Linked DNA regions of Homo sapiens. The protein of the gene in region 1 purifies or fractionates together with the protein of each later gene. This does not show direct contact. Each region holds a gene or a part of one and is shown in the gene's direction. Other genes may lie near its edges.

Region 1 (3,928 bases):
AGGGATGAAGCACAAAACAAAGTAGGTAAGAATCATCCCTGTGGACCAGAAGAAAAACAAAATCAATTTTTCATATCTTTTTCAGAGGTTCTTAATAGTGGAGTATCAAGAAGTAGTTGAAATTACATTGGACTGTGAGCCAAGAGACAGGAGTTCTGTTTCCATTTAGAATATATAACTTTGGGCAAGTCACTTCTGTCTTTAAAATGAGAGGATTAGGCTTAGTTCTTTGTAGCTCCAATATTCTAACACCATTTATGCCCTTTCCCAACACCATGGTCCTATGTAGTTTTATTGAGTATTTACTCTGTGCCAGTCATTCTGCTTAGCTCATTACAAGCATTATCTCCTATAATCCTCACACTGTGCTAAGATATTGGTATAAAATTTCCATTAATTCTACAGACTGTGAAGCAGATTCTGAAAAGTCAGGCTGATAAGGGTCACAGACATATTTAAATGGCAAAACCTGGATTTAACCCCTATGCAAATCTGTCTTCCTGGTTTTAATTGCTACATCATCTTGTGATTGAGGTGAAATGCAAGCTTTTGTTTGACCAGGGTTATTTAAATGCTATCTGGGTGAAGCTGGATGAAAACATGAGTTTCTAATGTTCTTCCCTGGCCTGGTAGATCAGGTTATGTCTTGGATAACCTATGTGATGAGCTTCTGATAGTCAGAATATTTGCAACTTGGGGTAGGTATTATAGACATTCAGAGAGTATTTTCTTTTACTGCCCTGGAAGCATATAGGGAACGATGTATGGAGAGTGTCTAGAGTGGCAGGGATTAACAATCACGGTCCTTTGAGCTGGTATGCCCGCTCTCTTGACTTTGCCTTCTCAAAACAGTGACCCAGATATAACAGTAGACAAATGTGGATTTGGGATGATCATGATGACATCTGTTCCAGAAGTGAGAAGGTCCTCATTAGCATCATGAAGATTGTCTTGAACTATGTCATGAGAGGGACCTTGTTATTTCAGGATTCTGGCTGGGAAAAAGTCCATCTCCTGGGCTATGGAGAGTTACTTAAGGTTGTTTCAACCACAATTGGATCCAGCTCAGGACAAGATTCATTCTGAGGCCCAGATTTTGCTCATAGTATATTGGGGGAACCCGCCCTGATAATTCAATGTAGGTTCTTTTCTGTTTTCCCTATGTGTCGGCTGGTCTGAGAAATAAAGGGAAAGAGTACAACAGAGAGAAATTTTAAAGCTGGGTGCCCGGGAGAGACATCACATGTCGGCAGGTTCCATGAAGCCCCCCAAGCCGCAAAACCAGCAATTTTTTATTAGTGATTTTCAAAGGGGAGGGAGTGTACGAATAGGGTGTGGGTCACAGAGATCACATGCTTCACAAGGCAATAAAATATCACAAGGCAAATGGGGGCAGAGCATCGGGGCAAAATTAAAATTGCTAATGAAGTTTCGGGCATGCATTGTCATTGATAATATCTTATCAGGAGGCAGGGTTTGAGAGCAGACAACCGGTCTGACTAAAATTTACTAGTCAGGAATTTCCTCGTCCTGATAGGCCTGGGAGTGCTACGGGAGACCGGGGCTTATTTCATCCCTTATCTACAACTGTATAAGACAGGCATTCCCAGAGCAGCCATTTCAGAGACCTCCCCCTAGGAACGCATTCTCTTTCTCAGGGCTGTTCCTTGCTGAGAAAAAGAATTCAACGATATTTCTCCTATTTGTTTTTGAAAAGAGAAATATGGCTCTGTTCTGCCTGGCTCTCAGGCAGCCAGATCTAATGGTTATCTCCCTAGTTCCCTGAACATCGCTGTTATCCTGTTCTTTTTTCAAGTTGCCCAGATTTCATATTGTTTAAACACACATGCTTTACGAACAATTTGTGCAGTTAACGCAATCATCACAGGGTCCTGAGGTGATATACATCCTCAGCTTACGAAGATGATGGGATTAAGAGATTAAAGAAGACAGGCATAGAAAATCACAAGAGTATTGATTAGGGAAGTGATAAATGTCCATGAAATCTTCACAATTTATGTTCAGAGATTGCAATAAAGACAGGTGTAAGAAATTATAAAAGTATTAATTTGAGGAACTAATAAATGCCCATGAATTCTTCACAATTTATGTTCTTCTGTCACGGCTTCAGCAGGTCAGTCCCTCCGTTCGGGGTCCCTGACTTCCCCCAACATTAGTTAAGCTTTGTTTTTCTTCTACGCTAGGCACATCTTCCATATTTCAAAGTCTTGTATTGTTCTATTCAGTTCATGTTGGGGCATTGAGTCCCACTGGGCTGTGGAGGTATGCTCCTTAGGTCTCAGGAATTGCATCATGGTAAACTCATTTGGGTCCATGTAGATATCACTGTTGTCTTGGCAGAAAGACAACGGAAAGTCTCCAGTTCTATAGAAATCTAGGGCCATGGGTGGTCATAAATTGTTGCTCCAGAATGCTACACAGGAGGGCCTCCGGAGTAAAAATTTTTGGTTAAAAGAAAGGGTAAGTTCTTTATACTGAGTTTGCACACCACTTTCACTTAGATAATATGTTATAGGTGAACGAAATAATAAATTCTTAAGATATTTTTGTTCACACTTTACATAAATTTGACAGAAATGCCAACTATCTACATCACAGAATGTTTTTATTATTAATTATATTTATGGCAGCTTGTGAGGAGATTGATATATATCATGGGAGCAACCTTCTGTTAGACCTCAGAAAAGCAAGTCACTTAACCACTCTGCTTCTCAGTTTTCCTGTCTATAATCTGAGAGCAGTAACTTCCATGTCTACTTTGAAGAGGAAAGAGTAGGAATAGAGTCAGAAGGTGCTCATGTATTGCAATTTGTCATTTTGCTTTGAACACTTTAAAACTAAGAAAGCCAATCATATGACAGAAGTAACAACAAAACATTTCTGAACATTCCTTTTGGAAGGGTTTCAGATTTTGTTAAATTTATTTGTTTTATTAAAAATAAGTACATATGGATCCTGTTTCCTCTCAGACTTGTTTATGGGAACTGCTTTTTTCTCTGCATTAGAATTTTAGAATACATTGAGCTGTAGATTTTTGTTTTCCTTACACTGCTTTTGAATTGTTGTTCAATTATCATGTCTTTCATAGCAATATTTAAGCTGTTCTGAGAAATGGTATCAAGCCAGGTTGCAAACTGTGGATTTTGAACAGTCTACAGAAGAAACGAGGAAAACGATTAATGCTTGGGTTGAAAATAAAACTAATGGTAAGGATAAGTCAATATGTGTCTCTAAACTCTGTGTTGTGTTGATAAGCAACCTGAGTCCACTTGCTAAAGAGGAAGCTGGCTGAAGTCTGCACCTGACATAGGCAGATCAGCAAGAAAGGAATGGGGCCATATTTTGGAATACCCCTTACAATCAGTTGTTCTAGAAGCTATACAAAGTGACTCTGCGAATGAACACCATTTCTGTTTCATAAATGTGTGGCACATTCTGCAATTAAAATTAATTAAATTTAAATTTACTTTTCACAATTAAAAACCCATATATATTGCTAAACATTTCTTAAATGTTTCTTAGAAACATTTGGTTAAGGAAAAATTTAAGGATATACAAAGGTAAAGAGAATATATAATGAACCCTATTTATCCATCACTCAATTGCAACATTTCTCACTAATGGCTGGCTTTATTCATGTAATCTCTCACCCTTTCTCCAACACTTCTTTAAGATTATATTGCAGCAAATTCTAGATATTCTATCATTTTCCTTCACATATTTCACTTTGTTTTTCTAAAAATATGGACAATTTTAATACAACCGCTACAATTCATTACTTCTGAAAAATTAAAAATAATCCTTTAATGTTAAATATTCAGTGTGTTTTCATTTTTCCCCAGTTGGCTCTTTTTTTTTTGTTTGAATCAGGAACCAAATAACATTGACATATCACAATTAGTTAATA
Region 2 (3,928 bases), on another chromosome or scaffold:
GTCTCTGAGTCTCACCGCAGCCCTTGTAGCTTGGCATCCTCGTCAGATGACACCCGAGGCAGGGTTGACGTGGCAGGCAGAATCGTTTGCACCCGTATTTGCTAAACTCTCAGCTGTTCTTCAGAAAATTTGAGGAGAAAATGAAACCAAAAAGAATACTTGAAACCCTGCTCAGTTGGTTTTGTTCTGAGCTTTCAGTGGCTCTAAGAGCTCATGGGAAATGAGTTCTTTTTCTTTTCTCCGGGCCACTTGAGTTCTAATGAAATGCACCACTTGGTTTTACAAGTTCTTCTATAAAATACTTGCTTGTTTAAAAAGCAAACAGCACTGCCCTACTTCGGAGCTCTGCAGCACATCCCTTAAAGAAAAAATACTTGAGGTCACTGTGCTGAGGCCCAGAATTTAACCACGGCCAGTAAGAACCATCAACAGAGAACGGCATTTCTGGGATGACTGTTTTAATCTTACAACAATTTATCTGAAAGGAGAAAAGAGAAAGCTGATTTTTTTTTTCTGATTCTTTTTTTTTTTTTTTTTTTGAGACAGAGTTTCACTTTTTCGCCCAGGCTGCAGTGCAGTGGTGCAATCTCCTCTCACTACAACCTCCGCCTTCCGATTTCAAGAGATTCTCCTGCCTCAGCCTCCCGAGTAGCTGGGGCTACGGGCACAGGCTGCCACGCCCAGCTATTTCTTTCTGATTCTGAAACAAAGTATTTATCGGCCATGCCTGCTGTTGGCTGCTCGGGCGACACGGTATTTCCTCGGTATTTCCTCGTTGCAGCTCCCAGGTCAGGCTCTGGGTCCCTGTGAGAGGCGGGTGGCCGCCATGGCTCTGCTGCCTCCCGTGTGGGGTAGTGACGGGGCCTTCCGAAGCTTGACTGCTTGGTTAGTTTTGTTTTGAGAGCCTGTGATGTTTCAAGATTTTTACTGCATCTTTTTATGTAGCTATTTTTATAACATGAGTAGAGGTTGAAATAGTTTTTTTCTCTCTGAAATCTCAATTCAGTCTGTCTTCCTTTTTCCTGATAAGCAGGAAGCATCCTATGCTTCTTGCCTTAGAATTACTGATTTAGGCTATTGCTTTGGTGAGGCCACATCTTGTTTTCCTCTGTGGTCCTGGAGTTTGCGTTGTGGTGAGGGGTGGAGCACATCCACCCTTCAGCTAGCGCCAATTAGGTCCCTGTGGGAAAGGGGCCCCAGCCTAGCACCAATGAAGGCTGGGCCCTGGAGTGTGCAGTGGCTGAACAGTCACAACCTGTGTTTCTCCCACCTGCATACATGCCAGGACATACACACATGCATCCCTGCACACGCACACATACATGTGTACATGTGCACACGTGTACAGAGACATGCATACACCCGTGCACACATGGACACAGGGCATCCATGCACAGGTGCACATGTATACATGTGCACATGTGTACAGACACATACACACAGGGACACATGGGCATGTCATACCCATATGCACACACACTGGCCTGAGCTGTGGAAGCTGCTGGTGCGGTCCCTGCACGTGTGGCCGCCGGGGCTGAGGGCCTACCGCGAGGTGTCCTCTATGTTGCTAGGAGGTCAGCGCTCACAGCTCAGGTCCCTTCCACCCAGTGGTGGAGGCAGTAGGGGTGTGGGGAGCCTTCTGCTGCAGCCCTGTTTCCCGCCCTGCGACCCACCCCGAGTCCCCTCTGTGTCCCACCTCATGTCCACCCTGTGTCCAGCCTTGTGTCCAGTCTGTGTCCCGCCCTGTGTCTGCCCTTTGTTTACCCTGTGTCCATCCCGTGCCCGCCTGTGTCCACCCTCTTCCTCCTCACTTGGAGCTGCCCCCACCCACCTGCCGTCGCAGCCCCTTTAGAGGTCACCAGCCCTGACCCTTTCGTCGCCCAGGGCCCTGCGGTGCTCTGCCTGTGGCCCTGCTCCCACTGCCTTGGAGGGAGGCTGCTCACAGCGCTTCATGCCGGGCACTGAGTGGTGCAGAGTCTTCGAGAAACCTTTACTTTTTAAAATTTTTTTATTAAAAATAAAACTATTAACTGAAACTGCAGACTCTATGGCTTTTCCACCCGTGCCTGTTCCGTTCTGGGACCCGGTTTTGTCCTGGCGTCTCCTCCCTCCCTCCCTGGTCTGTGAGTCTCCCAGACTTTCCTGTGCAGGATTCCGACCTTGACAGTGTCAAGCAGGCCTGTCATGGCGTCTGTAGAGCGTCCCTCACGTTGGGTCCGTCTGGTGTTTCCTCGCAATTAGACTGGGTGATGGGTTTTGGGAAGACGCCCACAGAGGTGCGGGGCCCTTCCCGTCACACCGTATCAGGGTCCTGACGTCCGCACGGCTTTCTGATCACCCGGCCAAGGTCTGCCTGCCAGGTGTGCCCTCTGACAGGTCCCTGCTTTCCCGCCCGCTCTGTCCTCTGGAAGCCGCTCACTGGGTCCAGCCCCCGCCTCCTGAAGGGAGTGTCTGCGGACATTATGTGGAATTCCTCTGTGAGGAAGATCTTGTTACTTACTTGTTTGTGGTCACTGATTTTGTCACTATGGACCCACGCCCATTTATTTTCCCTCTGGGTCGTGATCCCGTGCTGTCACCGTGAGTCTGTGTCTGGGTCGTGATCCCATGCTGTCACCGTGAGTCTGTGTCTGGGTCGTGATCCCGTGCTGTCACCGTGAGTCTGTGTCTGGGTCGTGATCCCGTGCTGTCACCGTGAGTCTGTGTCTGGGTCGTGATCCCGTGCTGTCACCGTGAGTCTGTGTCTGGGTCGTGATCCCGTGCTGTCACCGTGAGTCTGTGTCTGGGTCGTGATCCCGTGCTGTCACCGTGAGTCTGTCTGGGTGGTGATCCCGTGCTGTCACCGTGAGTCTGTGTCTGGGTCGTGATCCCGTGCTGTCACCGTGAGTCTGTGTCTGGGTCGTGATCCCGTGCTGTCACCGTGAGTCTGTGTCTGGGTCGTGATCCCGTGCTGTCACCGTGAGTCTGTGTCTGGGTCGTGATCCCGTGCTGTCACCGTGAGTCTGTCTGGGTCGTGATCCCGTGCTGTCACCGTGAGTCTGTGTCTGGGTCGTGATCCCGTGCTGTCACCGTGAGTCTGTGTCTGGGTCGTGATCCCGTGCTGTCACCGTGAGTCTGTGTCTGGGTCGTGATCCCGTGCTGTCACCGTGAGTCTGTGTCTGGGTCGTGATCCCGTGCTGTCACCGTGAGTCTGTGTCTGGGTCGTGATCCCGTGCTGTCACCGTGAGTCTGTGTCTGGGTCGTGATCCCGTGCTGTCACCGTGAGTCTGTCTGGGTCGTGATCCCGTGCTGTCACCGTGAGTCTGTGTCTGGGTCGTGATCCCGTGCTGTCACCGTGAGTCTGTGTCTGGGTCGTGATCCCGTGCTGTCACCGTGAGTCTGTGTCTGGGTCGTGATCCCGTGCTGTCACCGTGAGTCTGTGTCTGGGTCGTGATCCCGTGCTGTCACCGTGAGTCTGTGTCTGGGTCGTGATCCCGTGCTGTCACCGTGAGTCTGTGTCTGGGTCGTGATCCCGTGCTGTCACCGTGAGTCTGTCTGGGTCGTGATCCCGTGCTGTCACCGTGAGTCTGTGTCTGGGTCGTGATCCCGTGCTGTCACCGTGAGTCTGTGTCTGGGTCGTGATCCCGTGCTGTCACCGTGAGTCTGTGTCTGGGTCGTGATCCCGTGCTGTCACCGTGAGTCTGTCTGGGTCGTGATCCCGTGCTGTCACCGTGAGTCTGTCTGGGTCGTGATCCCGTGCTGTCACCGTGAGTCTGTGTCTGGGTCGTGATCCCGTGCTGTCACCGTGAGTCTGTGTCTGGGTCGTGATCCCGTGCTGTCACCGTGAGTCTGTCTGGGTCGTGATCCCGTGCTGTCACCGTGAGTCTGTGTCTGGGTCGTGATCCCGTGCTGTCACCGTGAGTCTGTGTCTGGGTCGTGATCCCGTGCT
Region 3 (3,928 bases), on another chromosome or scaffold:
ATTAGCCGGGCGTGGTGGCGGGTGCCTGTAGTCCCAGCTACTGGGGAGGCTGAGGCAGGAGAATGGCGTCAACCTGGGAGGCGGAGCTTGCAGTGAGCAGAGATCCTGCCACTGCACTCCAGCCTGGGTGGCAGAGTGAGACTCAGTCTCAATTAAAAAAAAAAAAAAAAAAGTATAAATTACCCATAATCTCTTACATAAATTCCTTATGATTTCCTTATATTTATTTATTCTTATAATTTCTTATATAAATCTCTTATAGTGTCTTTCTTAAAGAAATCACTGTATATAATATTTCCTGCTAGTTCTTATAACACTCAGAACCCCCACAGCACTCTCAGACCTGAGTTGCCTCTCCAGCCTGGGCTTTCCATGATTCTTGGGATGGATGCAGGAATGTCGCCTGTTTATTTTCATTCATGGGCTTGGTGACCACTGCTGCCCCTCACACACTGCATGGCTTGGAGCGGGTCTTGAACCTTAGCTTGCTTGTTTGTAAAATGGGAAAAATAAGATGGTCATGAAGACCCAGACAGCTTATAGGACCTACCTGGTAAAGCACTGTAATGTATATGTCTGTAATTGTCTAGTTGGTGGGCCTTTGGGGTTGCTTAGGTAAGGAGGAAAAATACCTCCTGTATGTCTCAGATACAAATGTAAGTTTTCGTCTAGTGAGTGTGGTCTGGTCTAGCCAGGGGCAGTGCTGTAACTTTAACCTATATGATTTTCCTTCCCACCAGAAAGAGCATGAAGCAGAGCCCTTCAGCGGGTGTGCACACCTTCTGTGACCGGCAGAAACCCCTTCCGGACGGTGCAGCCCAGTATTACGTAGCAGGTAGCGCTCAGCACAGCTCTGGCCCCAAACTCTCGGCTAGATGCTGACTCTTTTGGGGGCAGTCCAGGGAGACAGCATGGCATGGTGGTCAAGAGCAAGGGTTTTAGAGTCAGACAGACCTGAGTTTTAATCCCAACTCTGCCATTGACAAGCTATGTCACCTTCAGCAAATTACAGAAAAGAAACTCATCAAGGTTAAGTAAAATGGGGTTATAATGACTAAATGAGATAAAATATATAAAGCAACTAGCCCAGTGCATATAGTAAGGGCTCAACACTTGTAGCTGCTTTTATGCTAAAGTTGATTGGTATAATTTTTGATATGACTGACTTCACACAATCTCATGCCCCTTTGAAAGGGACTGGGACCCTAGTATGACTGGGCTATTCCCTGCAGGTCACCTGCCAGTGAAGCTTCCTGACTACAACAACCGTTTGAGAGTGCTGGTTGCCACCTATGTGACCTTCAGCCCCAATGGCACAGAGCTACTAGTCAACATGGGGGGGGAACAGGTATGTACAGCATAAGGTGGTTCTGCCCCATCACCATTCCATGCCCAGCAGCCAGGGGCATGTACCTTATGTTCACTGCTGAGGCAGACAAGACACAACAGCCTTATGGTAAATGATGTTACATTGAAATGTGGGGGTGATGTGGCATCATTGGAGTTCCCAGAGAGATGTCCTAGCTCAGTCTTTTTATTTCATTTTTTCTTAATGAACTAGATAGAAATATGATAGTATGGCATTTTGGTTAAGAATATAGGCTTTGGAATGGACAGACTTCTGTTCAAATGCTGGCCTGCTGTTCAGCAGCTGTTTACTGTGACTTTGAGCAAGTCTCTTTATTTTTCTGAGCCTCAGTTTCCTCGTCTGCTATTTTCCTAGGAGGAAATCCCTGGGGCTCAGAGCATGCAGCTCAGAGCAAGCTGTGGGTTAGTGCCAGCTTTGGGAAGTGTTCTTTGATAATGGCAGGTTGCTAAACCTTCTGTTTGTGTGCTCTCAGGATATTTAGTAAGCCTTGCATACATTTATTTACTCTACCAACACTGAGCACTTACTCTGGGACTCGCATTATTATAAATATAATAGAGACAAGTGGGAAATATGATCCATCCCCAGGCTGATGGGAGACATGACAAACGAAACAGTTAATGACATTACAAGGCAAGGCCCAAATATATACAAATGAAGCGGGATGCAGAATAGGTGAGGATAAGCCAGACATTCCTGGACCTGTCCAAGGAATCATGAAAAGCTCAGGAGTAGTGCTAGGGTAAACATTTGGCTTTGTGACCTTTGAGGACTTCTTCATCTTTTTAAACATGTGACGTGTTTTTTGTTTTTTTTTTTTGAGTTGGAGTTTCGCTCTTGTTGCCCAGGCTGGAGGGCAATGGTGCGATCTCGGCTCACTGCAACCTCCGCTCTGCCTCCTGGATTTAAGCAATTCTCCTGCCTCAGCCTTCCAAGTAGCTGGGATTACAGGCACATGCCACGCCTGGCTAATTTTGTATTTTTAGTAGAGATGGGGTTTCACGATGTTGGTCAGGCTAGTCTCGAACTCCTGACCTCAGGTGATCCGCCCACCTCACCCTCCCAAATGCTGGGATTACAGGCATTAACCACTGCACCTGACCTTCTATTTTGTTTGTTTGTTTGTTTGTTTTGAGGCAGGGTCTCATTCTGTCACCCAGGCTGGAGTGCAGTGGTACAATCTCAGGTCACTGCAGCCTCGACATCCCAGGCTCAAGTGATTCCCCCACCTCAGCCTCCTGAGTAGCTGGGACCACAGGCACACGCCACCACACCTGGCTAGTTTTTGTATTTCTTGTAAAGACGGGGTTTTGCCATGTTGCCCAAGCTGGTCTCAAACTCCTGGGCTCAAGCAACCACCCTCCTGCCTCAGCCTCCTAAAGTGCTAGGATTACAGGCTACGCCACCATGCCCAGCCAAATGTGATTCTAATTAATGATAGTATTTCAAGCAGGACTTTGGGTAGATCAGATAGCCCACCCTGAATGCTAGAGCTAGGAAGATTTTCCAGCCTGAGGTTTGCTGGAAGTACCTCTTAGGATAGCTTGATTGTTCTATGCTCAACACTCACTGTGTTCCAAGACTCTAGTTCTTGAGAAACCAAGACCTGCTTACTGGTTCAACCACATCCTTACCTCACAGCTTCCATCTCTTTTTTTGCCCCCCTCAACTCTAGGTCTATTTGTTTGACTTGACTTACAAGCAGCGGCCGTACACCTTCCTCTTGCCTAGAAAATGCCACTCCTCGGGGGGTAAGTTCTCCCTTAGGGTATCTCTACTGCGGCGGTGTAGGGGAGCTTAAGTGCATGCTACACCTGCTGAGAAGCCTGCCCTTTACTCTGGACCGTGATCCTCCAAAAATAGCAGATCTCTGAAATAACCCCACCTATGCAGTAAGAAAGAGGATGACAATAGAGCAGAGATCTCTTCAAGAGCTTTGCATCACTGCCCTTTTTGCTTCCCTCTGAAAAGACAGGTTCCTTCCATGGCTTGGCTCTTGAGAACCTGAAATAGTTCCCCTCTCCTTTGTATCCTGGCCCAGTCTTCTCATTGATTTCTTCCTGGGGCCTACAGTTGATTTAGGCACCTCCTCACTCCATTCCCACCCCCAGCCCCAGCCCTAGCCCCAGCCCCAACCCTAGCCCCAGCCCCAGCCCTAGCCCCAGCCCCAGCCCCAGCTGAGTAATGCCACGGTGAAGTTGTGTCCCTCGCCAGCCAGCAGAGGGCGCACGGGCTTTTCTTTATGTCAGAACTTGCTTTCTGGGAATGGATCTTACTCTGGGAGAACAGTCCCACGATGGAACCATCAGACCCCGTGATGGAAGCTAGAGGGCTGCCAGGAAGAAATGGGTCCTCTTCCTGAGTTGTTGCTGTCACTTTCTCACTATCTCCTGCCAGAAGTCCAGAATGGCAAGATGTCCACCAACGGTGTGTCCAACGGTGTGTCCAATGGCCTGCACCTTCATAGCAATGGCTTCCGGCTGCCGGAGAGTAGGGGACATGTCAGGTGAGGCCAGCTGGCTTGTCCAGCCCTCCAAGCCCCAGTTACACTATATGGAC

What was found. Proteins that work in one complex are often made in the same cells at the same time.
Region 2: the proteins of SERPINB11 (region 1) and LMF1 purify together in Homo sapiens (affinity purification with mass spectrometry, with the first as the bait; one large-scale study listed by BioGRID). This does not show direct contact.
Region 3: the proteins of SERPINB11 (region 1) and WDTC1 purify together in Homo sapiens (affinity purification with mass spectrometry; one large-scale study listed by BioGRID and IntAct). This does not show direct contact.

The regions. Positions count from the first base shown.
Region 1 is NC_000018.10:63,712,926-63,716,853, forward strand, and holds part of SERPINB11 (serpin B11), read left to right. Parts: intron 1-3,109; coding exon 3,110-3,227; intron 3,228-3,928. UniProt on the Homo sapiens protein: Has no serine protease inhibitory activity, probably due to variants in the scaffold impairing conformational change.
Region 2 is NC_000016.10:960,907-964,834, reverse strand, and holds part of LMF1 (lipase maturation factor 1), read left to right. Parts: intron 1-3,928. UniProt on the Homo sapiens protein: Involved in the maturation of specific proteins in the endoplasmic reticulum. Required for maturation and transport of active lipoprotein lipase (LPL) through the secretory pathway. Each LMF1 molecule chaperones 50 or more molecules of LPL.
Region 3 is NC_000001.11:27,293,282-27,297,209, forward strand, and holds part of WDTC1 (WD and tetratricopeptide repeats protein 1), read left to right. Parts: intron 1-740; coding exon 741-835; intron 836-1,232; coding exon 1,233-1,348; intron 1,349-3,044; coding exon 3,045-3,120; intron 3,121-3,766; coding exon 3,767-3,875; intron 3,876-3,928. UniProt on the Homo sapiens protein: May function as a substrate receptor for CUL4-DDB1 E3 ubiquitin-protein ligase complex.